Linked DNA regions of Homo sapiens. The protein of the gene in region 1 interacts with the protein of each later gene in a pairwise test. Each region holds a gene or a part of one and is shown on either strand. Other genes may lie near its edges.

Region 1 (11,071 bases):
ACTATTACTATCTTTAATAAGCATTTCAGAAGTCAATAAAATTTAAGCTTATCAAAATTAAAGTTAACACTTAAATGCATATAGTAGGAACTCAATAAAGGTTTCAGGAACAAACATAATTCTTGCTAGTTACATTTTTTAAATTGCTGTTATAAAAAGTAAACAGAAATTGAAAAAATATAAGAACTTATGTTTTTCAGCTTCTACTCCAAATATTACTAAATTTAGTAGGTAAAAGTAACAAAATGATCACTAATAATTATGACCATAGTAAGATTATTATATTGGCCTTGAAAACACTTTCAAATATATTTATTCATAGTTAATTTAGAATCAACCTCAATATAAATACATACATTTCGTAAGCCTGTGAGCCATAGGAAAAAACCTTGGGTGGATTATAATCATCAATTATGTTTTTCAGGTTCCTCAGGCTTAAATGTCCCTGCCCAAAATAGTCAATAGTATGTCCCCAGGATTTGTATCTTATCCTCAAAAGGTGTGGCTAACTATCAGGGCAGGACCTTGGAGAAAGGGGATATTAGCCAAGTCATTCCCAGTCTAAACAAAATTGAAAAAGTATGCATGCCAGGTGGGTGTTCAAAATGAACTTTAAAAATCTGCTACCTTTAACATGGACTAAATATACATGTATAAAACAATCCAGTGATTTTCTGCCTAAAAGTGTTTTATTTCCACTGACATTATATCTAGACCTACTTACTATTTTTCCACTGCTATCTCTTACCTGCAGCAGAATCCACTAAAGCACACGATTCCATTCAGAAGAATAAGCGTTGGGAGGAGTAATTTTAAAAGCCTAAAAAAACCCCAACGAACACAGATAGAGGACATTTCCCCTCACAGGATGGGAGAGAGGTTGGTCTTCTGCCTTAAATTCAGGTGTACATATCTCAGTGTATCAGTTTGCAGGGACAAAAGCAGTTTGGCCTCCCAAACAAAAAAAAAAGAGTTTTTTTCCCCCTCCGCATGCTCCTAGTATAGGAAAAACAAGTGGCTACGCATCCACTGGCCAGCTGAATCAGCTCAAGCAATTATGGGAGTGACCTATAATTATACTCATAAATATCAGATTTTAATGTCACAAAAGAATATTGTATCTGCTAGACTCTTTCAGCTCCACAATTCCAAGTATATATGCCCCTTGTTGCCTCTCCCCCAGTATGATTTTCCCTAGGACAGGTAACCTTTTTCAACAAAAAGTGGTTCCGAATATTTTAGGTTTATGAAGACCAGAATTTTCAAAATGTCTGATAATTTAAGTAACAGGTTTATAGTATGTTATTCATCTGTGCTTTTCAAGAGTGCCATTTACAATTTCTTTACTTTCAAGGGGAAGAAAAATATGCATCACAAAGCTTAAGCAAGAATTAGTGGTTTTTCTAATGGCCACTGACACAGGCCATTTTCTGAAAGTTTTCCTGAAAGTACGGAGTACTGGCAATGTTCCATTTAAGAGATTTTTTTTTTGTTGCAGTTTTCATGATTCAATTTGACAAATAATGTTCTTCTATTTGTATATTATATATGAATATACATATATAAAATATAACATATATTCATTAAAAAGTATATGTTTTTTATTTCCTCTAATGTAAAAAAATTAGCATCTTGAAAGACACCATCTTTAGTGTATAGGTAACTGAGGGCTTTCGTTAATGGTCAATTATTTAAAAGTCTCACATAATTTATATAATCTACACTAAAATGTATTGTTAGAACTAGGCTATAGCATATGTTCTGGGTATTTTATATATAGAAAAGAAAAAATTCTGGATAAGTGAAACTATTAATCCTCAAGGATATAAAACAAAAAGGCTTTTTCAAATGTACTTAGAAAAAAAAATCACACAGGAAAGTTAAGATTTTGTAAACTACTTTAATAAAACATTTGAATAAATTTGTGTTAAACTCAGTAAGTTTCATATTCCTATGAGCTGTTTCCCTAACGTCCTAAAAATTACCTTTTTATACATAAAACAGAGCATTTAGTAAAATAAATAATACACCAGCACATCAAACTTACAGAAACTCTGGCATCCATTTACCATACAACTACAATAAATTGTAATTTCATCCAAATACCACATCATATATGAAATAATCATTGAACTTCACCACATTTTAAAAAATTTCAAAGATAACCTGGCAAAAATGGTTTATTTAAACACAGTATAATCTTATTTTAAGAAAACATAAATTCATAGTAATAAGAGCAAATCACACATAAATGTTTGAACTGAGCATTAGAATTCACAAATTAGTATCTTCAGCTCATTTGAATTAATCAAATACTAAATACTATATTGAGCAAGAGATAACAGTATCATTATAATAAGCTAAATCCAAACACGGAAAATAAGTCTAACATAAAAACAAGCAAGACTTTTTTTTTTTTTTTTTTTTTTTTTGTCTTTTCGCTGGCTCCCTGACTGCAACTAGTTTTTCTTTTGGAAAAAGAAGCTCCAACACAATTAAATAATAAATTTCTACATTTTCTGTAGTTTTTCTTCCCCGAAAATCATGTTTCCATTAGCTTGCTAGTAAATCCTACAGAGTTGTCAATTTATCCATCACCGTCTCTCTCTGAGCTTCAAATACAGAAAATCCGAAAAGTTCAAAGCAGTTAGAAAAGCAGCGAGTTGACAAAGAATGCCACTTGAGATTTTTTTTTTTAGTCCTACTTCCTAAAAAGTCAACAGGTCAAAATTACTCACAGCTGGATGCAAGGGTCTTCGAAAAATGAAAGGATGTTTTCCCTGCCTCAATCAGCAGACTTAAAATGCTCCCGATCCACAGTGGGATAGATGTGGCCCTCAACGGTCAGATAATCAATCGCTTCCTTGATGGCCTTGACGCTAAGGTCGCAGAGCTGAGCCCGGAGCTCATGGATGCTCTTCCCTTCCTGATGAGGACACTCATGAATCAAACGCAGCACTTCGTCCTGGATGAAATTGCGGTGACTCTCATCGTTATCCCCAGCATCATTCACTTCTGATGGAGACACAGGCACACTTTCTACAGTGGTATCACGACGGGCTTTATCCAGCATCATGTGTGCATTGACCGTTTCCAGAATATGCACGGTGAACTCGTTCATGTCCTCTAGGACATGAATTTTCAATACCTCAAGGCTCTTTGTTCCCGTGGGACATTTGAGGATACCAAACACTTTGACATATACTCCGACTGACAATGGAGTCACCTGCTTGACTTTCTCTCTACCAAACCACTGTCGGGCCTCGATTGGTTTCGCGGTCATATCATCAATTTTGTAACAAATGTGATTTGAAGCCTTCTCTGCCCCTCTGATTACCCCCACGATGGAGACCTGGGAAACTATAATTCCCCTAACCTTGAACACAGGGTCAAACACAGTAGAGCTGAGAAGCTGGTTCACATTACACGGTACAACGTCCTGAATTCGGACCTTAGGTCTTTGGGTCTTAATAGCAGGAGTTGCATCTCTCTCACACAGTTGGTCACTGCCTCCACTCGCTCCATCAGCAGCAGAAATGCTGCCATAGCTCCCAAACCCACTCTTACTCATCTTCAAGACAGCTCAGGCTGAGGAGAAGGTGGGCTTTGGCTCGTCTGGGGCTCCACGGACGGCTTTGAGTTCTCCACAGAAGGCTTCGAGCTCTCCACAGAAGGCTTCGAGCTGTCCGAAAGGCTACGATTGAATGCTGGGAGGCTGAGGACGTGACAAGCGTCACGCTACCTGTGGACCAATCAACTACCAGAATGCATCTGCTTCCAGCCAGTCAGGGTCGGCCACCTTCTCACCTGATCGCATAATCCTTCCCTGTGTGTCAGTGGTTGCTACATTCTAAAAGTCCCACACGAGGGGAGCCCTGTTGCTTAGCTGGTCAAAGCGCCTATCTATTAAAAGTCCCACGTGTAATTTCAAGCAAGCCTTTCCCAACATCTCTATAAAAATGCATTTTTACTAGCCCCCCTCTTTATTTCTTAATGCTGCAACTTCTACAATTACTTTTAAAAGACTCATTTATTCATTCATTCAAACAACAATGCAACAGAAATTTTAGGAGCACAAAGTGCTTGGCAAAACGGTAGAGTGCTGTACGTTACGTGCAGGGGGGAAAAATGCACCACCGTAGTTACTGTTCTCAAGAACTCACGTCCCCTGTTCATTCAAACCATTAAAACTAGGAGCATCAGGCCGGGCGCAGTGGCTCACGCCTGTAATCCCAGAACTTTGGGAGGCTGAGGCAGGTTGATTACTTGAGGTCAGGAGTTCGAGACTAGCCTGCCAACGTGGTGAAATCCCGTCTCTACTAAAAATACTAAAATTAGCCAGGCGTGGTGGTGCAGGCTTGTAATCCCAGCTACTCGGGAGGCTGAGGCAGGAGAATCGCTTGAACCCAGGAGGCAGAGGTTGCAGTGAACCGAGACAGCACCACTGCACTCCAGCCTCGGTGACAAGAACAAAACTCCGTCTCAAAAAAAAAAACAAAAAACAAAAAACAAAAAACCTAGGAGCATTTTGGAAGAAATGGCAAGACAATCGTCTTTCAACGATTATCATACTCTAAGATAAGTCACATCTTAACACTGGCTTTTAAAAAATTTTTTGTTGTTTTAAAATTGTAATTTTCTGGGCATTTTGCCAAGTGCACTATAAATAAGTAATTAATATATTTCAATTTATACATAAATCCAAACTGAATGACTGAGCTCTAAATTATTTTCAAGGCTCTGTGGACAGGACAGAAAAGTACAAGACTTAGACCTATTATATATTAGGAAAAACATGGATAAAATCACAGTAAGTTTTTTATATACTCTTATGGAGTAAATTCTGAACTTAAGATTCTAGTAGTTACATAAATAGATCCCGGATTTTTGTTTTTTTGTTTTTTTTTTTTTTTTTTTTTTTTGGAGACAGGGTCTCGCTCTGTCTCCCAGGTTGGAGTGCAGTGGCGGGATATGGGCTCACTGCAACCTCCACCTCCCGGGCTGAGGTGATCCTCCCACCTCAGCCTCGTGAATACCTGGGACCACAGGCGCACATCACCACACCTGGCTGACTTTTTTGTATTTTTGGTAGAGACGGGGTTTCACCATGTTGGCCAGGCTGGTCTCGAACTCCTGGACTCAAGCGATCCACTTGCCTCAGCCCCCTGAAGTGCAGGGATTATAGGTGTGAGCCCCCACGCCCGGCCAAGAATGTTTTGATATTTTATTGAAATTTTATTTTTCTTTATAAAACATTTTATTTTGGGTGTTATTGATTTAAAGGCTTAATAAAGGAACCACAGTTACTGGAATCCACCATTGGCAAGTAACCTAATAACAATCCTTTGTAGTTAGTTAATAGCCTAAATTAGTAGAGTTTTGAGAAGTTTATTAATGCTCTCACTTCTTTTACTGGTTAAAATAATTCACTTTTTGCTATCTCAAAATTACAGAAATATGTGAAGAGTATATCTAAAACTTATAGAAGAACATAAAGTTATATATACCTTTCAAGTTTTAAAAGAATAAAATCGGCCGGGCGCGGTGGCTCACACCTGTAATCCCAGCACTTTAGAAGACCAAGGCAGGTGGATCACGAGATCAAGAGTTCGAGACCAGCCTGGCCAATATGGTGAAACCCCTTCCCTACTAAAAATACAAACATCAGCCAGGCATGATGGTGCGTGCCTGTAGTCCCAGCTACTCAGGAGGCTGAGGTAGAAGAATTGCTTGAACCTGGGAGGCAGAGGTTGCAGTGAGCCAAGATCGTGCCACTGCACTCCAGCCTGGGCAACAGAGCAAGACTCTGTCTCACAAAAAAAAAAAAGAATAAAATCATGGAGCAAATATACTTAATTTGCTTTATAAATAAATATATAATAATTATCTGATCCCACAAATAGATTTCCATGTAAATGTGGATATTTAACTTCTGGCTCTATGTTAACATTTGTATTCTTAAAATTGTACATTACTAGAGATCCAACTAACTAAATATATTTTTAAAAGTTTACGACTTCACAATCAGATGCTGCTGTTTTATTAACATCAGATTTTTAGTCAGGAAATCTTGAGGTTTAAATAACAAAACTTATTATATTCCCAAACAATTATATGCACTACAAATTGTATGAATCATACCGAAATGATAAGAACGACTTACCTGACCGGATTGCTGGTTAAAGAAACCCTGAGGGATTCTAGGCAATTAAGAAGTTTCTCATCTGATATACCCGATCGTAATTCATGAACATATTCTTGTGAAGACAGGGTGCATTCATGTTTGCTGTTTTTCAGCCCACCCTATAAAATAAACAAAGAGACCATTTTAGACAATGTTTCAAAAAAAATTTAAGTAAAATAATGCATAGAATATTTATTTTGTTATATAAAAATGTGTGCAGAGTGCTACACACTTAAAAATTCTTGATCACAGAATTGATATAGTAAAATTGTGTTGTATATATCTCAACATTTTCCTCAACCTCATTTAAAAAAAAAATTACAGTGCTGGTGCTCATGACCTGAATAGAATATGAACTTGAATTACATAAAGTGTCATTGACAGGGGTGCTTAAATTTACAATTCAGGCATTAGAATTAATATTAGCTAGTCCTCCTTAACCCAGAGGATAAGCATTCAAAAATCATCTTATTAATTTTCCTAGTTAAGATATGTATATTCAATTCCACAAAATCCAGCAAATAAAATTTAATATATACCATTATACATAACCCAAATCTATTGAAAGATATCAGAGTATCAGCCTTTCTAAAAAAAATAAGTGAAAACAGTTATTAAAATGTAAAACAATATAGTCTCCAATTAGCATGTTAATTAATCAAATCAGTTGAAAGCATTCACCAGTTCCCAATTATTCCTTTCTGGTACTCTCAGGTTGTAGATTAATCTTAAAAAGTCATTAAATACATTTATCTGATAGTGACTAGTTTTTAACTTAACTTTCAATATAGATGGAGTTGTTTCTAGAACTCATCTCATCACAGCTCCTTAACTTCATCATCTTGCTATAACTATATAAGTAGTTCAGGGAAAAGGCTGGGAGGAAAATATTGTCAACACATTCACTATACTAACAACTGATAGTTTCACATTCTAGACGTACCTAATCATAATTGCCCCTTTCCTATACTGTAAATGTATATCCCTGAATTAAGACTCCAAGCTTGAGTCCCATTTTACAGGTTCATAAAAATTACACTCAGTTTCTGCTAAGCATCTAAGGATACTTACTATAAAATAACATCATAAGGATATACTATCATAGGAAATATAATATTATAAGGAGATCATAAGGAAAGGAATTTTTCCCCATTGGGTAGAGGTATTATCATTAGAGGATATGACATTTAAAAAAATGTTAATAATGAGAAATGAGTTCCCTATGATTTCACACTATTTGGGTTTTTATTGAGAATGCCTCCTCAATGTAGAAAGTGTTAATCATTCTTAATTTCTGAATTTCAAAAATCCCATTAGATGCTAAATTTTTAAAGTCTGATAAAGGCTTATAACATATAGGGGAACTCTATTCCCTTAGCGCTGTGGCAATATTATAATTATTATAGCACTTAAAATATTGTGGTAGAGGTCATTATTTGTGTCTGTCTCACTTCTACATTGGGAACTCCATCTATGCCACATAACTAACACCGGTCATGAATTTAGTGAGCTTCAATAAAAGTGTGTTATTATTGAACTTCTCCATAATAACTGCAGAACAAGGAATACGATTTCATACTTTGAGCTCCCATATTTTGTATAATGGCCACTGACTTGGTATTTCTTGCTTCGTTATGAGACACAGTAGACGTTAAAAATATACTGGATGGGCCGGGGACGGTGGCTCATGCCTGGAATCCCAGCACTTTGGGAGGCTGAGGCGGGTGGAACACTTGAGGTCAGGGGTTCGAAATCAGCCTGGCCAATGTGGTGAAACTCCATCTCTACTAAAAATACAAAAATTAGCTGGCATGGAGGCACATGCCTGTAATCCCAGCAACTCGTGAGGCTAAGACACGAGAATAGCTTGAACCCGGGAGGTGGAGGTTGCAGTGAGCTGAGATCCCGCCACAGCACTCCAGCCTGAGCCACAGAGCAAGACTCCGTCTCCTCCACAAATAAAAAAGTATACTGGATGAATCATCATCACCTAAATGGCACAGTAAGTAAAACCATCACCGAGAGATCATGTCCATATTCCTGTAACTTCCTTATCCATCTATTATTTCACAAGGAATAATAGCAAGTAAATATTTAAAGCATAATTTTGCAAATTCAAAATTATAGTTTTATTTTTGCTCGGCCAACTCACTTTCTACAACAACACAAAGTTCATCAGTAACAAGGGATCTATTTACTACATGTGCCAGTCTGAAAACTACTAGTAAAACGAATTAAAATTTTCAAGTCTGTAGTCACATACCGCTTTCATATAATCCTCAAAGTTATTTCTAAATTAATATATAAAAAGGCACCACTAATCTTCCCCTAGAGGATTGTATATGGAATTTAACCCTGTTGCGTGACCTTTGTATTTTGCAGTTTTCTCTGCCTTGAAGACCCTTATCCCAACCTCTCCATTGCTGGCTCCCATCATTTTAATCTCAGCTCCATAGTCTTCTCCCCACCCCACATTCTAGTTATCATCGCAACACCATTTTAAATATCATTTACAGTATTACCTCTATGAAAATTTATTTTTGTAATTTAGTTGTTTACTGTCTTCTGCGCTAAAACATAAGCTCTTATGACAGGATTCTTGCCTGCCTTGTTCACCACTATATCCTCAGATCTTAAGACAGTGCTTAAGTAAGCATTCAATACATATTTCCTGAATGAATGAATGGATGGATGGTTGGGTGGATGGATGGATAGAGAATAAACAAAAGGGTAGATGAGTGATGAGTTTCAACATGCTGAAGATTCTAAGCTTAGTTTTGCTTCAGAATATTATAGTTCTGAGACTTTCAGTTGTAATATATTCAGAGATGCTGAATATAGAACAGGTAAACTGAGACACTGTATGGTATGCTGAGGACAGCTCAGAGGTATTTTATATTGGGCATCTCATGGACACAGAATAATCTACTGAGAAAATGTTGGTTCCCTTTTTCTAATTGATTCCCTACAGGATTAGTCTAATTGGGACATATGGTTATGGCCGAGGTACTCCTTGTGGACAAGTGAGCCAGCCCATCACTTTGTGGCTCACTCCCCACCCAAGTCTTAGAAACAAGCTTAAATTATAAAATTTAGGATCCTCTCTGGTTATAAGGAATGGAAGCAAACAATCTACTAGAGCATGACAGAGAATATATAACTTTATAGAACAGATGCTTTTTACCAAGCTTAGAAGGACTTTGAGATTTTAACATAAGTTCATATTTGAAAATTATGAAAATATGATAGCAAGCTAAGGCTGGACTGGCCCTTAAAGATCAGTTCTTCTAATATCCTCATTACAAAAATGAGGAATCCAAGTAATTGCCTAAGTTCACATAATCAGTAAGAGTATGAGACTAAAACAAATATTCTGGTCCTTGGATAGCTCCTGTCTCTACTATATACTACTTTTGCTCAATATTGAATAAAACGTTAAAGCAACAAGTATTTAATTCTGAAATCTCTATTACAAAATGTCAAGGTGTCAAAGTACCTTCAGTATAATCAATATGGTGCAAGAAAATATTTTTAAAATCACCTAAAAACAAAATAGTGCAATACATTAATTCTCATAATACTTAATAGGGCTGTAAGACAAGAATGGCTTATTAACATCCTGTTCTGATACTGAACAAAGGAAACAACTAGATAATGGATGGGTAATAATGGAAATTTTAATTAGCTGCTCTGTATGAGATTAATGAAAATTACCACTGTGCCCATTTGATCTTTAAAAAATAATGCAGACAAAGTTAGCAATTAGCATACATCATGCTATTCCAAACCTAGGTGAACAAAGAGCTTTCCTAATTTGAAGCCATTCCTTAATTTGAAAATCATTAGGATGGAGATACTAGTCAATGTGACTGGGCTTGTATTATTTTAAGACAGTACACAAATAATCAAAAGGTAGTTTGGGCCAGTTTAATAGTCACAGATTCCCCTTGCTCTGATATGAAATGTTAAAATCAACAGCAGAGAAGCAATATTCTAAGAAAGAACACTTCTAGTTTGCAGTGGAGATAATCACTTCTGAGTTTAGATGGACTTAGTCTGAGCATGGTCTGTCATTTTTTAATGTAAAAACAGACTTACTTACAACTTGGGAAAAGGCTTTATGGTTCTTAGCTGTAAAGGTATCTTGCTGCAGACACTAGACAGAACTATTGATTGTACACAGGTCTTTTCAGCTATACAGCATGCACATAGATAGCAATTAGTATCAGGGATGTCATCTTCAAATAGGATGGGCAATATTTTCATGAAAACAGTAATTTTGTTAGTGTTATTGACCATGATTTACAAACCCTAATGAAGTCCATTTCTTTGGCTATTTTAATCAAATAAGTTTCTAATCTATCATCATGTTCTCTGAAAATATAATGCTATAGATTAACATATTTGGGATTATATCTACAAAGGTTCATACTGTTGTTCTTGGAGAGGCTCCTATAACTTTCAAACATAAGAAATCAAAATGCCATTTTCATCACCATCAGTTCCTTGAGTTCAAGGAGGAAAGGGAAACACAAAATAAGTGCCCTATCCAAGTGAATCTATTTATTTATTCTGATAGCGGTATATTTGGTTTGAACAGAGAATGCTATATAGTGCAGAACCTTTAGATGGCTTCTCTCCATTTATGTAAGAAAGCCATCTCTTACTGGGAGAGTAATACAGTTATGTAATTTATGTATCAAAAAATATAAAAAATATATTAAAATCAATTTATAATAAAACTTAAAATAATTTAATATGCAATTTGCATTGAAAAATTTTTTTATTATTATACTTTAAGTTCTAGGGTAAATGTACATAACGTGCAGGTTTGTTACATATGTATACATGTGCCATGTTGGTGTGCTGCACCCATTAACCCATCAT
Region 2 (11,219 bases), on another chromosome or scaffold:
GGTTATAAACTCCTTGTCTGCCTACAATATTAATATGGAATGAATGTTATCACCAAGTTACTGTAACTCAGAAGACTTCAGAAAATATCCTCTAGGTATCAAATTAAATTTGTAACTACGGTACTTTTTGCTTGCCTTGAATGACTTTCCCTGGAAGCCAGAAGCCTTGTGTTCAGTTTCTAGCACCATCAGCAATGTTACCTTGGGTAAATCATTTAAACATGTTGAACGTATGTTCCATTTGGCAGTGGGAATGCCATATGCTCTCAAATTGCTTCAGTGTGATTTTGTAAAAGTGAAATTGATTTTAAAATATGAATATATAAAGTGATTTCACTACTTATTAAGTAGAATGCATTGTATACTTCATAAAGCTAACAAATAATAAAAGACTAAATGATATTTTGGAATTTAAAAAAGACCTCTTTAGTTTTCTGTGATCCAAAATCTGGCTTAATTTTGCCTTAAAGCTATTCTTAGTGTTAATATATAATGCTTTTTAAAAATCGGCCAAGGTATCTTTGGGCATTTGTAGTCCTTTTCTGTTCAGAAATGTCATTAACTTGAAATATAAAGATGCTTTCTAAGGAAACTGGTTTGCCTAGCCAGATCTTTTAATGTAGTTATTTTGCTATGTGAGCTGTAAAACCCAAACATTGAGGCTGCTTTCCACAATGCCTTGTTGCCCAGACAGTGATGTCATGTTTTAAGCATGTTTAGTTTGCAAAGGTCCTGCTTTTGATCCTTTAGTTGTCACTTTTTTAATGCGGCTCCTCCTGAATCACAAAGGTACTGAAAGTAATTTGCTTCATTAAGGTCTGTTGCTGACACTGTTGTATTTCAGTCGTCATTCTTCTCTTAGCCTCCTTCATTAAGACCTTATTCAAATTTGGATCATGGTTCTGCTGCGACATCCACGCCATTATCATCTAAATAGCAATTACATATTCAAACACAACAGCTTCTCCTTAACTGTCTGTAACTTAACATTTTACATAGATTCAAGTGGGAATTAAGAATAAAATGAATCTTTTCTTCGTGATTTACAACCCTCCCTTTCACCCTTGGTTTACTAGTTAATGTTGAATAAGCTACTTGTAGACGAAGGAAGACAAAATTATTGATTGCTCAGCTTTAGTTTTGTAGAGAGATATATATTATAAATTGTTTCTGTATTAAACAGTTACCCAAGTGTCAGTGACCCTTATTCAATCACCCATGTATTTATTAGACAGCATTTACCATTTTGGATATAAGGGGATCAGGTCTAACACTCTGTTAAGAAATTAATAGGATCTTTTACAAAAGCAGCAGTGCTTTATAACTTGAAACATTGAAAGGAAACCTTTAAAAATAAGTCAACATATTTGTCCTTTTGGGACAGACCTCAAAAATAGAAGCAAATTCCATTAAAGTAGTAATATACTTTTCCTACTACTTCGTTTTGGCCATCTTAAAATTATATTTTATAATTAGTAAATAAGCTGATTTGACTGAAACGAGCAACTATGTTTATTGGAGACAGACCCAGCTTTTCAACAGATAGAATGTTAGGACTTTTTTTGCCCATTAATATGTGGTTTAAAGGGAAGTTATAACAAGACACCAAATGCATATGTATATATACAAATACAGGCAGTTGTATGTTTTTAAGAAGTTTTTAACCAGCAAGGGGTGTGTGTTTGTGTTTGTGTGTCTGTGTGTGTGTGAGAGAGAGAGAGGGAGAGAGAGAGAAAGGGAGAGGAAGGGAGAAAGTGTGGGAGGAAAAGAGGAGAGGAGGAGAAGACAGAAGAGGAAAACAGTCCTAACTATTAAAAATACCAATTAACTACTTAATAACACATCTTTCAGTGTCTTGCATAATAATTTCTTAGATATTTTGCAAAATTCGGCATGGTTAAGGGATTTTGTAATGGTTAAATAATTTTATTAGTTGTTTGAAATTGACTGTCTTTGTTTTCCTATCTGTGTGCTGAGATTTATCTCAATTATATGTGTGAATAATGTTATGCATGGGGTTACTTTTAATATGGATTTAACTGAGATTCTAGACTATATTCTTTGTAAATATGAACATTAGAAACTTGTTCAATTGTGGGTCGTCATTAATTCAAGTCAGGAAGGCTCACCCTTTGTCCTCACACCATCTCTTAAGAAGATAAGTCCTGTGGATAAGCTGGAGAGGTCAGATGTTGGTGTTGACTTAAAGCATTGCCACCCGAGGAGGGCAGAATGCTGTAAAACAAAGCAGAAGGAACTGTGTGGAGAGAAGGTGAATGACTGGGGGACTTGAAGTTGAAAGAAAAGTCAGGCGCTGAGCCTGCAAGGGCAAAATGAGGCTTGTGGGATAAGAATGGTTTGTCAGAAGTCACCTGTTTGCTCAGAAGTCATCTTTCCCTAACAAGGGTCTGTTTGGTATGTTCCTGTATTACAATTTATAATAACTGTTTTTTTACCTGCTGAGGGTAAGATCTTTAAAGTGACATCTTACCAGCTATTATTCTTAGCTCTTGCTTATGCAAATCTCAATTTGAAAAATAACCTTTTAAAGTTTTTTTTTTTAAATAATGAGAACATATTCAGAATGACAATGTGATGAACACCTGTGTACCCACCAATTGGTTTAAGAAATATAATTTCTTGTTAACCTTGAAGTTCTCTAAGTCTTCTCCTTACTCCCACCTCAGAGGTAAATTCCACTCTTTAAATTCTGCTTTTTTGGGGTCTCTTTTTAAATAGTGTTAACATATTTTTCATATGTGTAGTTTTGTATGTTTTACAACCATATATAAATCGAGTCACTCACAATGTATGTACAATATGTTCTTCAGCAATTTGCCTCTCTCACTCAGTATCATGTATCTGGTCTCATCTATATTGCTCTATGTATCTTTAGTTCTTTCATTTTTATTTGACATTCCATTGATGAATATACCACAATTTATATATCTGTTCTGATGATGAACATTTGGGGTTTTGTTTTGTTTTCCTAAAAACAGTGCTGTTACTGAACATTAGTAGGCAGAAGAAAAAACAAAACACCTTGATCTGTGTCTCACACTTTATGCAAAAATTGCCCAAAATGAAAGGACTAGTCCCTAGAATAAGTACTTGCAAAACTCAGCAGTAAAAAACAAAAAACAAAAAAACATAAAACCAAATTAGAAAATGGGCAAAAGACATGAAGAGACATTTCACTGAAGAGGATATACATATGGCAAATAAGCACATGAATAAGTGTCATTAGCCATAATGCAAATTAAAACCATAATGATAGGTCTCTACAAACCTGTATCAGAATAGCTAAAATAAATAGTAATAACACCAAATGCTGGTAAGGATGAAGAGAATCTGGATCACTTATTGATGATAGGAATGTAAAATGGTACAATTACTCTGGAAAATAGACAGTTTCTGAAAAGCTGAATATGCAGTTACTATACGACTCAGCAATTACACTTTGGGCATTTATCCCAGAGAAATTGAAGACGTATATGTGCATAAAACTGAGTATTTATAGCAATTTTATTCATAATAGACCCAAACTGGATACACACCAAATATCCTTCAACAGGTGAATGGTTAAATCTATGGTATATCTATATCATGGAATAATACTCAGCAAGAAGAAGTAACAAACTGTTGATATATACAACAACCTGGATGAATCTCCAGAGAATTATGCTGAGTGAAAAGAGCCAATCCCTAAAGGTAACGTACTGTATGACTTCATTTATGTAGCATTCTTGAAATGACCAAACTGTACACAAAAAATAGAGAAATCATTGGTCGCCGGTGGGTAAGGATGGGGTGAAAGTTAGAGGCAAGTGTGTGTGGCTATAGAAGGATAACACTGGGGATTCTGGTGGTTATGGAGATGTTCTGTATCTGGTCTGTGTGAATGAAATATCCTGGTTGTGGTATTGAACTATAGTTTTGCAAGATGTTGCCATTGTGGTAAACCAGGTAGAAGCTACATGGGATATTTCCATATAATTTCTCCAATCTGCCTGTGAATCTAGAATTATCTGAAAAAGTTCAATTAAAAGACAACATGATGCTGTTACAAACATCCTTGTACATGTCTCCTGGTGCACATATGTGAGCTTTCCTCTAGATTTTATTTCCGGGAGGAATTACAGGCTATGCACATGTTAACTTTAGTAAATCATGGCAAATTTTTTTCCCAAGTGGTATATGAAAATTCTATCCTTTTCATATTATACTCTATCCTTTTTAAGGATATTGTACTTCAAGGATATTATACTCTATCCTTTTTAACATGTAATACTGTGAGACTTAAATTTTTATCAGTCTGTTGGTTAGAAAATGGTATCTTGTGTTTTTAATTTACATTTTCTTGTTTATAATGGAATTGGACATTTTTATTTATGTTTAATAGTCATATGTGGTTTTTTTGCTCAGTAAAATCACTATTGATCTCTTTTCCCTGCTGTATTGTCTGTCATTTAAAAAGTTGATTCTAAGGGGATCTAGTTACAAATTTTGTTGCATTTTAATGACTTATGTTTTTCTTTTTATCTGTTAATGAAGAGACATTTTGATGTGACAGTTTTAAAATATATAAAACTTTTCCTTAACTTTCATATTTCAGTCTGATTTAAAAAGTCCCTTCTTGGAGATCAGAAAGTCATCTTCCTATAGCATCTTCTTATAGCTCTATGGTTAACTTTGGTTATAGTGTGGTATAGCGATCCGATTTTAATTTTTTTTTGTAGGGATAACCTATTTTCTTAGTACTATTTTGGATTAATTCATCTTCTTTTCTTCACGTATCTTCCAAGCTTACTCTTACATATATAGTATCTTTGGTTCTCCTACTTTATGAGGCTATTTTTCTCTCTCTTAGCCAATGTCATAAAGCTCATTATATTACCATCCTTTAAAACCATCTCAACCTTCCTTTGTTCTCTGCTTTTCTATATAATGAAGCATCAGTTGATCTTATGCCAAATAAATAAAAAATGAATAACAGATGGATAATCACTCAAACCTACCCACTCTGATGTGATTTTTGTTGAAATTTTATTGAACATATAGATTAATTTAGGGGAGAATTGCTATATTTACAATATTTAGTCTTCTTCAGAAATATATTTCTGTCCATTTGCTTAGGTTTCCTTAATACATTTTTGTAAAATTGCCATGCATTTTTCATAAAAATCACATTTCTGCTTTTGTCAGATTTATTCTTAGAGTGCTTTTTTGTTTTATTATTATAGTAAATATTTTTAAAGTTGTATTTTCTGTTTGTTGCCAGCATAGAAACATGTAGCTGATACTTGTAGCAACCATCTTGATAAAATATTTACTTCCCATAATTCATCTTTAGATTCTTTTGAATTTTCTAAGTACGTAATTATAACCTCTGTGAATAGTGAGTTTTGTTTCATTCAAATCCTTGTGGTTTCATTTTATCTTTTGGTCTTACTGCATGGTCTAGGACCTCTAGTATGTTGAAGAGAAGTGTCAAAGAAAACATCTTTTCCCCACTTTTGATTGTAAAAAGAATGCTTATAATGTTTGCAATTGTGAACTACTACATACAATACATTTTGTTTTTTTGGGTTGCTCCTGGTTGGCTAAAGGCTTATTGTAGAAACATAATAGGCATAGAGTGTTGTTAGAATTGGTATAAGATTTGATTTTAATAGAATTCACCTGTAAAAATTATCTTGGCCTCGTGTTTCTTTAGTGGGTAGCTTTTATGTACCGAATGAATTTGTTGATAATTGCAGACTAGCCTATTGTGTCAATTTGGTAAGATATTTTTCTAGGTGATTGCTCATTCAAAAAATATTCTAGGGCCGCGCGCGGTGGCTCACACCTATAATCCCAGCACATTGGGAGGCTAAGGCAGGCAGATCACAAGGTCAGGAGATTGAGACCAGCCTGACCAACATGGTGAAACCCTGTTTCTACTAAAAATACAAAAAAAAAAAATTAGCTGGGCATGGTGGCGTGCACCTGTAGTCCCAGCTACTCAGGAGGCTGAGGCAGGAGAATCACTTGAACCCAGGAGGCGGAGGTTGTGGTGAGCTGAGATTGCGCCACTGCACTCCAGCCTGGGTGACAGAGTGAGACTCCATCTCAAAACAAAACAAAACAAAAACAAACAAACAAACAAATCTAAGTTTATAGACAGAGTTTTTTTTTTTTTTAAATGATATCTTCTTACCATTTTTTAATCTCTGGGATTTTCATTATGTTCTGCTCCTCCCCCCCATGGCAATATTGTTTATTTATTGCTTTACTATTTATTTTCTTAGTGTTTTCAAAAGACCAGTTTTAGGATGTATTGTTCCTCTTTTGCATTTTATTTTCTGTTTCATCATTTCTTGCTCTTACCTTAATTATTTCCTTTTTCATTTTCTTTGGAGTTTATTTTGTTAGTTTCATTTTGACTTTTTAAGTTGGTTGTTTGTCCTTGGATCATCATTTTTAAGCTTTTAAAAATTCTAATATGTTCATTAATAATGCCCTGTATTTCCCTTTAAATGCTATTGAGCAGCTTCCAAATTTTAATTTGTATTATTTCCATTCGTTTGTCATTTTGCACATTTTTCTCTTTTCAAAAAATTAAAAAAATTTTTTCTAGAGGCAGGGTCTCACTCTGTCACCCAGGCTGGAGTGCAGTGGTGTGACCACAGACAGCTCACTGCAGCCTCGACCTCCTAGTCTCAAGTGATCTTCCTGCCTTGGCCTCCTGAGTAGCTGGGACTACAGGCATGTGCCACCACACCTGCCCCACACGTTTTTCATCGTCAATACTTCTTTGTTGAGTTATTTTTAAATGTTTTAAGATTTCCAAAAATTGAGTTTTTTTGTGTGTTATCTTTTTGATGAAGATTTTTAATTTAATGTCCTGTGGTCAGAGAGGGTGGTACAAATGATAGAAATTCCTGAAATGTGTTGAGACTTGATTCATGGCCTTTTCTCAAAGAAAAGCATATCAGTCTTAACTGACCTCCACTTATATGACTTTGCATATTGACCAGCATTTCCAACTTTTCTATAAATCCTTGGATGTTGACAGCATCTAGTTTATTCTCTGATGAGCAGACTTTCTTTGGCTGCTCCAGCAGAGTGCTGCTGAAGTGTCAAGCTGTTTGCTCCTAAATGTATGTACTTGTTTATTATAATTGCATGATTTAATTAAAATATGAATTAAGAGGTTGTACTTAAACATGAATAAAGAGGGAGTACTTATAGCTACGAAACTTTGTTAAATGCTTTAGAAATAATCTATATAGTTTAATTGCTAAAATAAAAAAGGAGCTGTCAATTTAGGTGTGGGTGAGATGACTTAGGATCTAGGAATCAGTGGTAGATTGATTTGTAAATATCTTTAAATTCTCATTTGCTTTAAAACAGTTGGAGGTTGTGTACAATGTATTATATGTTGGACTTACATAAGAAAGACTTAGAACTCCATCAGGTGTCCCTAACTGCAAATAAAGGCCTCAGCTGAAAACCTTCCTGGGGGAAGGTTAAAGCAAGTAACAGGTTGGAAGCTGGGAGAAAGTCAGGATTTAGGGTGTTGGGCACTTGTGTAGAGTAATTTTTTTATTTCCTCATGAACTGGTTGTTCAAAAATTTTTCTTTTTTTTTTTTTTTTTTTAGTTGATAGTAACACTTGCAGACCTGTTGTACCATGTGGTTGAACTAAGCAGAACAGGGGCACTAGAATTAAACAACAACAACAACAACAACAAAAAACTACAGAGGAATTACAGTTGCCATAGGCAGCAATGAAACTAGAACTAACCAACTGCAGTTTTTTGTTGTAGGCAAATCCACAAATCTTAGAACTTAAAAAAAATACTTTTTTTTAGTGTTTTACGAGATGAACTCTGAATTATAGAATATCTCACCATTAATATGCACCTTCAGCATAGAAACAGTTAAAGAAAATAAACTTACCTGAAACTATTGTATTCCCTGTGCATTGTCTTCACATCCTTTTTCTGAGTACCTGAGACAAAGTGAACTACAAGTAGGATAAGAACTGAAAAGTTTTCACCAGATTTATGAATACAGTTTCATCAATGATCTTGGTGAATAGTAGTAGCAGAAGAGTTGACCATAGACCTTATAGCTAGCTGTTAGAATAGCTAATTTAATGAATTTTTTCCCAAATCTGAAACTCAAAGCTACTGATAACCAAAGCTAGTTCCCTGATAAGTAACTTAGGGAAGTGCACTCTTATTTCAATAATTAATGCTTCCATGAAATTATATAAACATTCATGCATTCCGACAATATCTGAATATTTCTGTGTGCTAGGTGCTGTGCTGGGTGTTGGGTATGCCATTATGAACAATACAAAGAAGAGCTCTGTTTTCATTCAAATGAGGATAAAGTTTTTCAATAGCAATTATTTTTAAAAATGAAAATAAAGATCCACAAATTTCCAGAAAAAAATGACCTAAAAGTCATAGTTTTACCATTGAATGTAATATCCTTCCTGTAATCCATGAATCAGAGTATGTAAAGAGATGTAAAAGATGTAAGAAAGAGTTTTGAGTTTTAATTTGGGAAAAGAAGTATAAGACAGTAGTAGCAGTCATATAAAATAGAATAGCATCAAACATTTAAAAAATAGTATCGTGATAGCATAGAGCAAAATTTACATTTTAACCATTTACTAAACTTTGGTGAAAACTATCACTTAAAAAATCCTTAATTACAAGGAGATAGTATAAAACATAGTTTGTTGCTGTTGTATATTTGTTTTTAAGTATCTCAGACAAATCGAATAATTTTTTAAATTAGAAACTAATATATGTCAGGCATATGGCTACAGTTAAAATTTTTTTTGAAAATGAAATTATGGATGCAGAAAGCAAACAAGCTGTGGCAGAAAAGGATGGATCTAAATATGAAGAGGAGGAGGAGATAAGAGCAATCCAGCTGCAAAAATTACTCATGCCATAGGTAGTTTTAGATGCCCTAGAAATAGTTCTATGTTGTATTGAATAACAGCTTGAATCAGGATTCGATATTATTACAACATGGGAAGGAACAATGCCAAGAAAAATTGTATTTATTCTTATAACTTCAAAGTGATACAGGAGCTCGAAAGAAATTTAGGCAGTTAGTGAGGCTAAGAGAGTCCTTGGCAAGGTTTCCTTTTAAATAAAAAGCAGCCCCCAAATCATTTCTTTTCTAACAAAAGAGCAGCCTGAAAGATCGAGCTGCAGACATAGATAAGCAAGCTGGAAGCTTGCACAGGTGAATGCTGGTAGCTGTGCCAATAGTAAAGGGCCACTTGGAAGCCAGGTATGTTCAACATGGAGGCTCCACCTTCCCTTTTCTTTGTCACCACGTGCACAGTAAAGAGGCAGGCAACATGGTGCTGGCCAGGTAGCAAACCCATCTGCCTAGTAAAAGATTAGGGTGGAGGCCGGCGCGGCCGGCGCGGTGGCTCACGCCTGTCATCCCAGCACTTTGGGAGGCCGAGGCAGGCGGATCACGAGGTCAGGAGATCGAGACCATCCTGGCTAACACGGTGAAACCCCGTCTCTACTAAAAGCACAAAAAAATTAGGCGGGCATGGTGGCGGGCGCCCATAATCCCAGCTACTCGGGAGCCTGAGGCAGGAGAATGGCGTGAACCTGGGAGGCGGAGCATGCTATGTAAATGGCACACCTGGTCTGATCAATCTCTCGTGCCCTATGTAAATCAGACACCGCCTCCTATAAAACCAACCTCTTCTTGCCCTGAACCCGGAAACCCGTTCGGGACCCCTTCCTCTGCACGAGGGAGCTTTCCTCTTTCTTTTTCCTTTTTCTTTCTTTCTTTTTTTCTTTTTTTTTTTTTTGAGACGGAGTCTTGGTCTGTTGCCCAGGCTGGAGTGCAATGGCATGATCTTGGCTCACTGCAACCTCCGTCTCCCGGGTTCAAGCGATTCTCTCACCTCTGCCTCCCGCGTAGCTGGGACTACCGGTATGCGCCACCACGCCCAGCTAATTTTCGTATTTTTGGTAGAGACTGGGTTTCACCACGTTGGCCTGGCTGGTCTCGAACTCCTGACCCCAAGTGATCCGCCTGCCTCAGCATCCCAAAGTGCTGGAATTACAGGCATAAGCCACCTCGCCCAGCCTCCTGTTTCTTTCATCTATTAAAACTCCACTCTTAAACTCACTCCTTGTGTGTCCTCGTCCTTCAGTTTCTTTGGCGTGAGACGATAACCTCAGGTATTTACCTCAGACAACTCTGCTACTTCAGAAGTATTTACTTTATTAAATGAATATGATTTATTGTTTTGAAGTAAAATGTTTAAGGTATGCATGTATTTTTTATGATTTCCCACTTTAACTGATTTTTTTATTAAATGAAGAAATGGTCTCAATCACATTGGCTAACATGGCCTCTATTTATTTAATTCATCTGTTTTTCCCACTTTGGGGCATCAACAGCATGGAGTATTTGGAAAACTACTTGTATTTGTAAAGAGTAAAATGCAGTTTAACAAAGAAGTTAGTTTGTCATTGTATAGTTCAGGAACTCTGGCCTGGATGAGAGCATGAGTTTGAAATTTTGTCCTCAAGATTTTGTTTTTATCTTACCATCACCTTTTATGCTTAAGTTTATGATTGGCCATAATTATCAAATTGACACATTATGTCATGTGAAAATCTGTTTACCAAACTTTTCTATTAATAAACTTGATGTTTAATTGTAATATTAAGAGTCACAGAGTGCTGTAGATTCTGTTTGTCATAGTTGTGTAGCTTTTAGAGTTTAGGGAAATCTAGTTTTTAGAATTGACACAATGATTTTTAATTTTAGCAGTGTGTTGAATAACCTGTGATATACCATTCACTTATTAACTTCACATTGTTGTATAATAAGTTATAAATTTTAGATCAGATAAGAAAGTAAAACTGGTATTAATTTGGGAAGAAGAAATTGCAGAACTTGAGTGATTTTTCCAAATAATGTGTCAGCTGTAACTTGAATGTGTTATTTTTATCCCCAAGGGTATTTTGAAATATACTTATGTGAATTTCTTATAGTTTATTTTAACCATAAAACTATTTTGATATTTTTATAATGCCATCGATGATACTGTATGCATAGTGAGGGCATGGGTTGTCTGTTCTTACCACCATATTCCCAGCACTAGCATGGAACAAATGAATAAGAACGGAGTAAAAATGCATAATCTAAACTTGACTATGTGTGTCTTCAAA
Region 3 (11,359 bases), on another chromosome or scaffold:
CCTAAATCTGCTAACTCCCAGCTGTGTCTCATTTCTGTCTAGCTTCTTTTACCCCCAGACAAAGTCTCACTCTGTTGCCCAAGCTGGAGTGCAGTGGTACGATCTCGACTCACTGCAACCTCCACCTCCCAGGTTCAAGAGATTCTACTGCCTCAGCCTCCCGAGCAACTGGGACTACAGGCACGTGCCACCATGCCTGGCTAACTTTTTTTTTTTTTGAGACAGAGTTTCACTCTTGTTGCCCAGGCTGGAGTGCAATGGCGCGATCTCTGGCTCACCGCAATCTCCACCTCCTGGGTTCAAGCAATTCTCCTGCCTCAGTCTCCTGAGCAGCTGGGATTACAGGCCACCACGCCCAGCTAATTTTGTATTTTTAGTAGAGACGGGGTTTCTCCATGTTGGTCAGGGTGGTCTCGAACTCCCAATCTCAGATGATCCGCCCGCCTCGGCCTCCCAAAGTGCTGGGATTACAGGTGTGAGCCACTGCGCCCGGCAATTTTTTTGTATTTTTAGTAGAGACGGGGTATCATTATGTTGGCCAGGCTGGTCTCGAACTCCTGACCTTTTGATCCGCCCATCTCGGCCTCCTGAAGTGCTGGGATTATAGGCGTGAGCCACCCACCGCACCTGGCCTGTCTAGCTTTATACTATGTCTTACTGAAGAATTCAGAACTTAATTTTTTTTAAGATGCAGTGTCATTTAGAAACATTTTCCTAATTGGCTTGAATGGAAATGGTACTTGATGATTCCTGGATGGCATCACTCCCTAACAGAAAGGGGTAGACAATGGCCTACTTGATGGAGAACTCTTGGAGGGCAGCTCTGACGGCTGTGCCATCTGCATCTTCCCAAGTTTAGGTTCTAGCACGAAGTCCCAGGCACTGCTCTAAGGGGTTTGTACATCCAAACACATTTAAATCCCCACTTTACGGATAAGGGAACTGGGTCTCAGGGAAATAGAGTCACTGCCCAAGTCCACAGAGCTTGAAAGTATGAGACCCAGATTTGGACTCAAGCAGTTTGACACCAAAGCCTAGGCTCCTACTCACTGTTATGCTAGCTAATATAGTGCTCAATAAGTTTATTCAGTGTTATGAAAGATCGTATGCCTCCTACTTTTTTAAACTTTTAAGTTCAGGGGTACCTGTGCAGGATGTGCAGGTTTGTTTTATAGGTAAACTTGCGTCATGGGGGTTTGTGGTACAGATTTGATCACTCAGGTATTAAACCTAGAACCCACTGGCTATTTTCCTGATCCACTCCCTCCTCCCACCCTCCAATCAGTCCCCGTGTGTGTTGTTCCCCTCTGTGTGTTCATGTGTTCTCATCATTTAGCTCCCACTTTCAAGTGAGAACATGTGGTATTTGGTTTTCTGTTGCTGCTTTAGTTTGCTGAGTATAGTGCATATGCCTCCTACTTAATAGAAAAAAAGTCAGCAGGTATGGTCAACTTCAACTTTCTTTCTCCTACAATCTATTAAACCTACGTACATCTATATCTTCACCATCTGCCTTTCCACCAGTCTCAGAAAAGAAGTTTCCCCTCTCTCAGTTCAAGGCCAGTTCTTCCCGTAGCCTTTGACCCCATCTCTTCCTGTTTTCTCTGGACTTCATCAGTTATTCTATTTGGGAACTTTAATCTCTTAATCTCTCCTCTCCTTACTTTCTCCTCCTCACCCATCATCCTGCTCAAGATCTAAGAAAATCCCCACTAGGGGACCCAGCATTGATCTTTCCAGCCCCTTTTCAGTCATTATCCTCTCTCTCCTCCCTTTCAAGCTTCTGGAAAGGACACTTCTCACCTCTTACCTCCCTCCCCTCCCATTCTTTTTTTTTTTTTGAGACGGAGTTTTGCTCTTGTCGCTCAGGCTGGCGTGCAGTGGCACGATCTCTACTCACTGCAATCCCTGCCTCCCGGGTTCAAGCAATTCTTCTGCCTCAGCCTCCCGAGTAGCTGGGATTACAGGCGCCTGCCACCACACCCTGCTAATTTTTGTATTTTTAGTAGAGACGGGGTTTCACCATGTTGGCCAGGATGGTCTCGAACTCCTGACCTCGTGATCGCCTGCCTTGGCCTCCCAAAGTGCTGGGATTACAGGTGTGAGCCACCACGCCTGGCCTCCCATTCTTGTCTCAACATGTTACAATCTGATTTCTACCCTCACTATGCTATTTAAACTTCACTAAGTTCACCAGTACATTCCCAATTGCTAAATGTTTCCACGTTTTATTTACTGACATTCTATGCTGCACTTGATTGTTCTCTACCCCTTCAACTCCTCATTCACTTGGCTTCCTGGGGTTGGCTCTGCCCTCAGCACTCTACCAACTCTCCCTGTGAGAGAGACCCATCCACTCTCCTTGATTCAGGTGACCACCTTTCTTAAAGGGAAATCTTTTTTTTTTTTTTTTTTTTTTTTTTTTTTGTAGAGACAGGATTTCACCATGTTGGTCATGCTGGTCTCAAACTCCTGACTTCAGGTGATCCTCCCACCTCAGCCTCCCAAAGTGCTGGGATTATAGGCATGAGCCACTGCACCGGGCCCATGAAGGGAAATCTTATCTGGGATCTTAGCAGAACATTATCTAAGGGGGACGGGTAATATCCGTATAGGTTCTTAGCTACCTGAGGGCAAAACTGTTTTATGCACAGCCTGCCACAGCAGACAAACAATAGATATCTGTTGAACAAATTACCCCTTATAAACTTTGCTTCACAGATGTCTAAGCAATTTCTGTAGATGTGTCCAAATGTTTATAGAAATATTGTAAACGTTGTACAGAGTGTTACAGATGTTCAGAGAAGGAACTATCATTTTTGGCTTGGTAAGAATTTTTGGCAGTGATAGCACTTGAGCTGGAAATAGTTTAAGTAAAGTCCAGGGGCAGGAAAGGGAGGGGAGGAGTAGTAACATTCAACTCCCATGCCAGAGACTGGAGAATAGCAACTGGAGGGACTCTGTGGAAACATCAAGTTTGAATAAGGGAATAGAAGATTCAACTAAAAAGATAAGTAGGAGGCCGGGCACGGTAGCTCACACCTGTAATCCCAGCACTTTGGGAGTCCGAGGCTGGCGGATCACCTGAGGTCAGGAATTGGAGACCAGCTTGGCCAACATGGTGAAACCCCGTCTCTACTAAAAAAACACAAAAATTAGCCAGCTATGGTGGCATGCACCTGTAATCCCAGCTACTCGGGAGGCTGAGGCAGGAGAATGGCTTGAACCCAGGAGGCGCAGGTTGCAGTGAGCAGAGATGGCGCCACTGCACTCCAGCCTGGGCAACAGAGAGAGACTCCATCTCGAAAAAACAAAAAAGATAGGTAGGAAATACACATGAGGAGGGCCTGAAGTCTAAGCTAAGGAGTGCTGGGATTACTCCATAGGCAGAGAGGAGCCTAGACTACACAGGTAGGTGTTCAGTCGTCCTATGTGGTGGCAAAGCAGCTGCTGGATTGGAGTGTCACACTGGCGGTGAACAGACCGTGGGACACGCCAGTGAGCAAAATGAGAGGCTGACACAGGGCAACGGCACTGAAATGACAAGAAAACAGCTGTAGTACTTGACAGATTTCATTGAATCTAATAAATCTGTATGTATGTACATATATATAGACACACACAAATTTTAACTTGTTATTAATCTTTATAGAGACAGTGTCTCACTCTGTTGCCCAGGCTGGAGTGCGGTGGCATGATTAGAACTGACTGTAACCTTGAACTCATGGGCTCAAGCGATCCTCCTGCCTTGGCTTCCCAAAACCCTGGAATTAACAGATGTGAGCCACCACACTGGCCAAATTTTAACATCTTTGTTATTGAAATACAAGTGTTTAATTTGCCGGCATATTTTTTAACAATACATAAAATACTACCGCATCTTAAAGTTGATGTTATCTTAGATTCAATGAAATATGATAACTGGATGTGAATAAGAAGGAATTCAAAAGCAAAGTTTCAAACCCGAGTGACTGGAAGGGAGTTTCCTTGAGCCCCACAGGAGAGTCTAACCAAATCTTCTATTTGAGCAATGATCCCCAGACAATACTGCTCTCCCACCTTCCCCACTTGAACTTATTAATAAGAGGAAGTAGTTATTAATGACAACTTTAATATGAACATGTGCTTAACCCTCAAGAAATTGTCACAACTGAAAGACGGGAGCAAGCTGACACTGCAAGGAACACATGATGCTTTGGAATGGGTGGCCTGCGTATTCAAACACATCAAAGCAGCAGTTACTTGAACAATCGGAACTTCTTCAAATACTGGCCCACTTCTTCCTTGGGGTAGGGCCGGAGAGCAATACAAGTGGCGATATTCTCTGGTTGCTCAAGCCACAGCATGTGGTCAATGTTCTTCTGTTGCAGGGTCTCGGCCAGCTCCTTTAGGGTGGTCTCATCTGGGGCCTAAAGGAGAAGAACACAGAACACAAACTGAATAGCCCACTTAGGAAGTGTCAAAAGGCCAAAAAAGGTTTCGGGAGTCCTCTTGCCTGAAAGTGGAGTAACAGCTTTACCAAGGAGGGAGCTGCAGAGCAATGATGTCATTCCGTGGTGCACTGGGGAGGGGAGAGAGGCTTCATATTCCAGTTTAGAAAATGGAGATTTGTATCTTCCCTTGTGAGATGTTGTATGCCCAACACACACATGTGTAATGTGTAATTCTGCTCTATACATTTTCCAGCTCTCCTATGGCTGGCGCCCATAATTTTAAGTGCCTCTGACTTTAAGAGCTGCCTAGTGGAAGTTTTTTTTTTTTTTTCTTTTGAGACAGAGTCTTGCTCTGTCGCCTGGGCTAGAGTGCAGTGGCACGATTATCAGCTCACTGCAGTCTCTGGCTCCCGAGTTCAAGCAATTCTCCTGCCTCAGCCTCCCGAGTAGCTGGGATTACAGGCGCACACCACTACACCTGGCTAATTTTTGTATTTTTAGTAGAGACGGGGTTTCACCATGTTGCCCAGGCTGGTCTGGAGCTCCTGACCTCAAGCAATCCACCCACCTAAGCCTCCCAAAGTGCTAGGATTACAGGAGTGAGCCACCATGCCCGGCCCCTAGTGGAAGGATTTCTAAAAGCACATCCACTTCCACTTTCCTCCACCCCTCCCACTCTACCTCACTGAAACCTAGAGGGGTTTTCCTTCTGCTGGGATGGCTCCCACTTGTTTATTAAAGGGAGAGTACAATATTCTCTAACATCCTTCTGAAATTGTTTCTGGGTCATCCTTACTGCCAATTCACCCATGCTGAATCCCATTCCAGGAAGTATTAAAACGATCACTCAGAAAATTATTATTTTTGTGTTATTTTGCATAAAGTTTATCTCTTACCTATGAAGGCAGAAGCCACTAAGCTACTCAGAGGCTTGTTTTAATAAATTAGAGAATGCCAGTATTGCGACTCTTAACCTGCTGAGTCCTTCTGGCAGAGCTCTGCTGGAGGACTCATCAGCTTCTTCAGCCTCGGGCAGCAGCAGAGCATAGTGAGATACAGTGAGGCTCTGGAATCAGACTACTGGACTCCAAACTCTTGCTGACTGTGTGATCGTGGATAAGTTAGGTGACTTCGCTGGCCTCTTCGTCCCTTTATAAAACAGGAATAATGCTTCCTAATGGGGATCAATGAAATCAGGCTTGGACCTGTGCCTGGCACACACTAAGCACTCAATAAATGTAGTTAATCCTGGTATTTTCTTATATTTTATTGGCCCTTCTGACTACAGCGGCACCTCAATGTAATCAGTAGCGACTCCTAAGTCCCTTTCTTGAGTCATGACTAACAACTAAGAATCATGAGACCCTCTTTTAAACTCAGGGGAGTCACTTAATCCCTGTAGGCTTCAGAGAGTTTCACCTGCGACAAGAGGAGTCTAACCTGATTTCTTGAGACCTCTTACTAGGAAGAAAATCTAAGTGAAAAGCCAGCAGCTTCTGTTCTGCCTACACAGATTCTCAAGGCATTTTTCCTACAGGTTACCGCTTGATGTTTCACTATCCAGCAGCAATTTTTCTCTTGAAAGATAATCTATCTTTGTCAGTTACCCATGAAGGGATTACTCCACCCCTCCACCTGAGTTCTGGCTTAAAGCCGTTTTTCCTTATTATAAAAAGCCGTTTATTATTAAAGCCGTTTTTCCTTATTATAAAATATGTGCTTAAGGTAGAAAATTTTAAAAATACAGATTAAGCATTAGGAAATAACCAAAATCTCACCATGCACTACTTAATATGTAGATGTATTTCTTTAGTTTTTCCTTTCAAAGTCTGGATCATTCTGTATATATAGTTCAGTTAGCTTCGCATCATGAGCACTCTTCCCGACCACTAAATATGCTTCAAAACCATAAGGGCTCCCATGAATATCCTTGTGCAAAGCTCTTTGGGTGCATCTGATTATTTTCTTAGGCTACATCTCTAGCAGCAGGATAGAGAGTCAAAGGGTAAGGGTGAGATTTGTTTGGTCATCTGCAAACAGAACCTGACTGCTATTTTAAAAGGTGTACCGATTTACACACCTGGTGCCTGGTCTAGCTGAAGCTAGGTTCAATTTATACTAACGTTTTTAGTATTTATTTTCAAATAATTTGGCGTCCTACCCAGGTAAATACTCAGTTTGACTTCACTTTGCACTGTCCCTTCGGGCTCGGTTTTGCAGGAGGACAGCACTTTGGGGCATGGCTTTAAAAAGTCGGCCAGTGCACAGGCGGAACAGCGGGGACACAGGAGCCACCACTTTACCGCGAGCCCAGCAGGGGGCGGAGGACTGCTGTCCACTCTTCACACAGTCAGGCCCTTCCCAAGGGCGCACCTCCAGGGAAACAGCTCCAGTCTAAATGTTAACGATCACCCCAACTCCCGCCGCACCCACTCCCCGCAGCCAGGCCTTCGGACCGAAGACCACACCCACTTCCGCCCTCGATGTCTCAGCACCTCCCCCTCCGCCCGAGTGCCTCACCTCGAGGACCACTTTGCGCATGCGCCCCAGCTCTTGGAGGTAAGCGGCTGTGTGCGGGTGGTCGCGGTGAGTGTGCAAGGCCGCGGTGGCCGCGTGACAAGCCTGCGCTACCAGTGCGCCCGCCGGCCAGGAGAACGGAGCTTGTGATAGATCCTTTCGTAACACCAAGTATTGTACCAGGACCTGCGGCTCCGCCCCAGAGGCCGCCATCTTCCTGACCACCCGAAAGGCCGGACCTACTCCCCGGTGCATCTTGGGATCAGGGCGGGGCCCTGAGCGCCGCCATGCTTTTGTACGGCAGGATCGCAAAGCACGCCGGGACCGGTTGGTTTGGTTTTGAAGACGTGGATGGCGGGAATTCTCGCTTCTGGCCTGGGTGAGCTAGAAGGGAGAAGGTAGGGGAAAGACCCATTGTCGGACCGGACCGTGGCCAGGGTGGCGGGCTGAACGGCCTTCTTAAAACTCCTTCCGTGGCCGGGAAGCCCGCTGGACCAGAGTAGCCGTGGCCTCGGGAGCGCGCCGGGGCCGCGGGATGGGCGCGGGGGTGGGCATGGACTCTGCTGGCTCGGACGATGGGAGAGGGCGGGCGGCTCAGGAAAGGGGATCCTAGCCGTGACATTTGTGTCATCCGCGGCCCAGGGGTTGTGCCTGAGTGGTGTGTGCCCTGCCGTCTGGGTTTGAATGGGACTAGATGTGATGTGACTGTTGCCATTTTTCTTTTATTAGCAAGGACATTGGAGTCCCTATCACCGGTTGCCTAGACAACTTCATGGGAAGGCCCTTGGGAATCTGAGATGGAGCAGGCGAACCCTTTACGTCCAGATGGCGAGTCCAAAGGAGGTATTCAGAGGGTCGCCGCCTCCTTCCTGCTGCTGCCCAAAGATGACCCGCAGGCTGAGAGAGCCCTTTCCTCCTGGAACTGACGTGGGACCTGGCCTGTTTGGGAGCAGAATAGTGAAAGGAACTAACATTGAAGACAAAGGGACAGGCAGCCAAGATTATTCGAGGAGGAAAAATGGCTTCGTTTCTAGGCTCCCACCCCTTTTGAAACGGATAAGTTGCATCCATCATATGCTCAGTGTTTATATTCTGAACTGCGGTTCTAGCCAGGGAGGTCCCTTTCCTCTCCCCGGATTTTTTGGGCCATGTATGCATTACTCTTGAGGGAGGGCCAGTGTAGGGCAGTGACTTTAGTGTTGGCTAGAACTGGTTTTGAGTGTTGGCTCTGCCATGATAAATATTGTGACCTTAGGCAAGTCACTTTATTCTCTGCCTCTGTTTCTTCATCTGGAAAATGGAGGTGAAAATAGCACTGTAGTTGTGGTTGTGGAAAAAGTATTTCTTTTGTGGTGGAAAAGTATTGAACTCAGACTTTTCAAGTGAAGCATTTAGCACATGTCTAATATATAGGAAATATTCAATGAAAGGCTTAATTCTTTACATACTTTGTGTCTTAAAATGTAGAAGGTGTTTAAAGAATGCTTGTTAGAGTTGCTTAGAATTACGAAACTATTACTTTTACTTAGTCCTTAGTCAATCCTTTGGAAACTGAGATTTGCGTTTGAATTTCTGTCCAGGAGTAAGTTGCTTTCTTCTTTAGTGCCTAGTAATATTTGTGGACAGTTCTGGTTTTGTGTGACTTTATGTTCTTTGCTACTAATACTTTTTAGAACTTTGAAATACTTACTCAAGCCTGATGCCTAAATCCAAAGGGTTCTACGTTAGTACTTTGGGAAAGCTTGCCATAAAACCTAACTTAAATTACAGTTTTAAAAAGAATTTCTGAGCGCGTCAGTGAATTTGGTTATCCTATTTTTCTCTGGGTCATCATTATCATTGATAACAGAGAAGTAACTATATTCAGCCTAAGATGACTTAAGCTGAGACTTTAGATAATAAAAGTATATGGGGTAAGATTTATTGTTACTTTAAGACTAAAAATAAGTTTGGTGACTTTATGTAGTGGAAACATGCTACACTCAGGAGTAACCTGTTCTCTAGTCCAGGCCTTATTTCATTTCTGTTAAAGTAAGTGATGAGGTGGAAGTTTTGGATTATCAAGAGACTTAGACCAGTCTCCTTATTCTCTACCCAAAACAATATTTAAACACTTAGCTGTTACCCATACTGGTTTTATCCCTCTGCTTGTTTGATTTCAGTTTTTTGCTTATTATTTGAATTCTCCCCACTCATTTGAGAAGGAAGGACATGGAGTTGTAGTTGCAACCAGATGATTTATTCAAATAGGCAGGGATTTTGACTTTTTTTGGGACAAAGCTGACTGGCTAGGATGAGATGCAATCATAACTTCCAAGGTAAAGCAGGCCCAGCAGATACACTCCCTCTTTTCTGTAGTAGCAACGCTAAACAACAACGCTACCCCCTTGGTGTAGAGGGAATCAGGTCGGTAAAGAAGCTGGGCAGGTTTGAGAGCCTGAGAAGAGGGCTGTGTGGAAGTGCCTAGAGAAGGAGCAGCATGATACTGTTTTGAACACCTACTTATCTCAGAAACTTTGGGAATATTGATATCTACTGTTTTAGTAATATAGAATTTCCATAAAGTAGAATTTGGTGAGGCGTCTCCTCTACCACCCTAAATTATTCTATGTGTGCGTGCTTTTCAGATCACCTCCTGGTTGGACATTAATTTTTGTAAGCTCCGTGAGGACAGGGACTTCGTTTTGCCACCACAGTATGAATAACTTCCAGCACGGTCCTTGGTCCATAGTAAATTCTCAATGCATAGTTGTTGGATAAATAGAGATTGGTGAATAAAGCAGTTAATCACGTGCTAATTATTAGGACTAATTTATTTAATTAGAATTTTGGTTTCTCACGATTATTATTGCGGTAATGTGGGTTTTTCTGTGGACATGAGCCAAGTGAATGTAATCTCCAAGAGTGTCATGCCTGGTTGTCCGTGTTTCGGTAAACATTTCCGGAGTGTTGGCCGGGCGCGGTGGCTCACACCTGTAATCCCAGCACTTTGGGAGGCCAAAGCGGGTGGATCACAAGGTCAGGAGTTCAAGACCAGTCTGGCTAACATAGTGAAACCCCATCTCTACTAAAAATACAAAAATTAGCCGGGCATCGTGGTGCATGCCTGTAGTCCCAGCTAATTGGGAGGCTGAAGCAGGAGAATTGCTTGAACCTGGGAGGTAGAGGTTGCAGTGAGCTGAGATCGCGCCACTGCACTCCAGCTTGGGCAACAGAGTGAGATTTCGTCTCAGAAAAAAATAACCATTTCCGGAGTGTTTACCATGTGTAAACACTTTGTGCTAGGGTTAAGGGATCCATGGGTGAACACAAATGCACACGGTCCCTGATTTTGGAACTTTAAGGTTCAGTGGAAAAGATAAGCAAATCAAATAATCACACTAATGAATATACAATTAAAACTATAGTGGCCGGGTGCGGTGGCTCACGCCTGTAATCCTAGCACTTTGGGAAGCCGAGGTGGGAGGATCGCTTGAGCTTAGGAGTTTGAGACCAGCCTGGGAAACATAGTGAGACCCCATCTCTTTATTTAAAAAACAAAAACAAAAAAACTATAGTATTGTCTCAGAAGGATCTTTGAGAGCTTATGAGCTGGCACCTGACCTTGTTCTGAAGGTGCTACAAAGGTTTCCCTGAGGAAATGCTGCTTGCATTGAGTGCTAACGAGCTAGAGTAGCTGCAGGTGAAGGTGGATAAGGGGCGGCTGTGGAAGAGCCTTTGGTGTGTGTGTTGGGGGTGGGGGGATCAGGTCAGTAAAGACGCTGGGCGGGTTTGAGAGCCTGAGAGGAGGCCTGTGTGGAAATGCCTAGAGAAGGAGCAGCATGATACTGATGAGGGTAAGAGAGATCCAGAGGCCAGTAGGCCTCGTAGGCAGTGTGAAGTCATCGAAAGGCTTTAGCCAGCTGGATGACACGATCCAGTTTAGATTTTGAAATATGGCTTCAGTGTATGGGCCACCTAGGAAACTTGTAATAGGCCAGAAATGGTAGTAGCTTGAACTACAATGGTGGCATTGCAGATGGGGAAAATGGAAATATTTTAGAGATACTAGGAATGTATATTCAATAGGATCTGGTAATGGATTGGGACTGGGTCAGGGAGAAGGTGTGAGGAAGAAAGTACTGGTTTACACAGCTATAGATGGATAATGGTTCCAGTCATGGAGGGGTTTAGAAGGGGAGATGATGAATTCAGTCTTGGACATGTTGATTGTCAGGTTCCTGTAAGTCTTCCAAGTAGATACACTGAGAAGGCAGGTGGATATTCTGCTTTCTCAAGAAGCAGGAGAGAGGTATAAGCTAGAGATACATATTTGTGTGGCATCGACATGTATGGCCATTAAGGCTGTGGGTACTGATGAGATTTCTTCTGGAAAGAAGAGGTCTTAGGACTGAGCTCTGGAAAATTTC

What was found.
Region 2: the proteins of RPA4 (region 1) and RPA3 interact in binary tests that used the Homo sapiens proteins (3 or more experiments, as listed by UniProt).
Region 3: the proteins of RPA4 (region 1) and PTRHD1 interact in binary tests that used the Homo sapiens proteins (3 or more experiments, as listed by UniProt).

What each region holds. Positions count from the first base shown.
Region 1 is NC_000023.11:96,876,811-96,887,881, reverse strand, and holds RPA4 (replication protein A 30 kDa subunit), read right to left. Parts: upstream 3,975-11,071; 5' UTR 3,572-3,974; coding exon 2,786-3,571; 3' UTR 2,415-2,785; downstream 1-2,414. Other genes in the region: DIAPH2 (protein diaphanous homolog 2), read right to left, coding at 6,164-6,303.
Region 2 is NC_000007.14:7,707,231-7,718,449, forward strand, and holds part of RPA3 (replication protein A 14 kDa subunit), read right to left. Parts: intron 7,997-11,219; 5' UTR 7,945-7,996; intron 1-7,944. UniProt on the Homo sapiens protein: As part of the heterotrimeric replication protein A complex (RPA/RP-A), binds and stabilizes single-stranded DNA intermediates that form during DNA replication or upon DNA stress.
Region 3 is NC_000002.12:24,786,173-24,797,531, forward strand, and holds PTRHD1 (putative peptidyl-tRNA hydrolase PTRHD1), read right to left. Parts: upstream 7,220-11,359; 5' UTR 7,206-7,219; coding exon 6,954-7,205; intron 6,904-6,953; exon of another isoform or gene 6,514-6,903; intron 6,413-6,513; exon of another isoform or gene 6,212-6,412; intron 5,608-6,211; exon of another isoform or gene 4,420-5,607; intron 4,410-4,419; coding exon 4,239-4,409; 3' UTR 3,556-4,238; downstream 1-3,555. Other genes in the region: CENPO (centromere protein O), read left to right, coding at 7,748-7,793. UniProt on the Homo sapiens protein: As a putative peptidyl-tRNA hydrolase, it might be involved in releasing tRNAs from the ribosome during protein synthesis. Some evidence, however, suggests that it lacks peptidyl-tRNA hydrolase activity.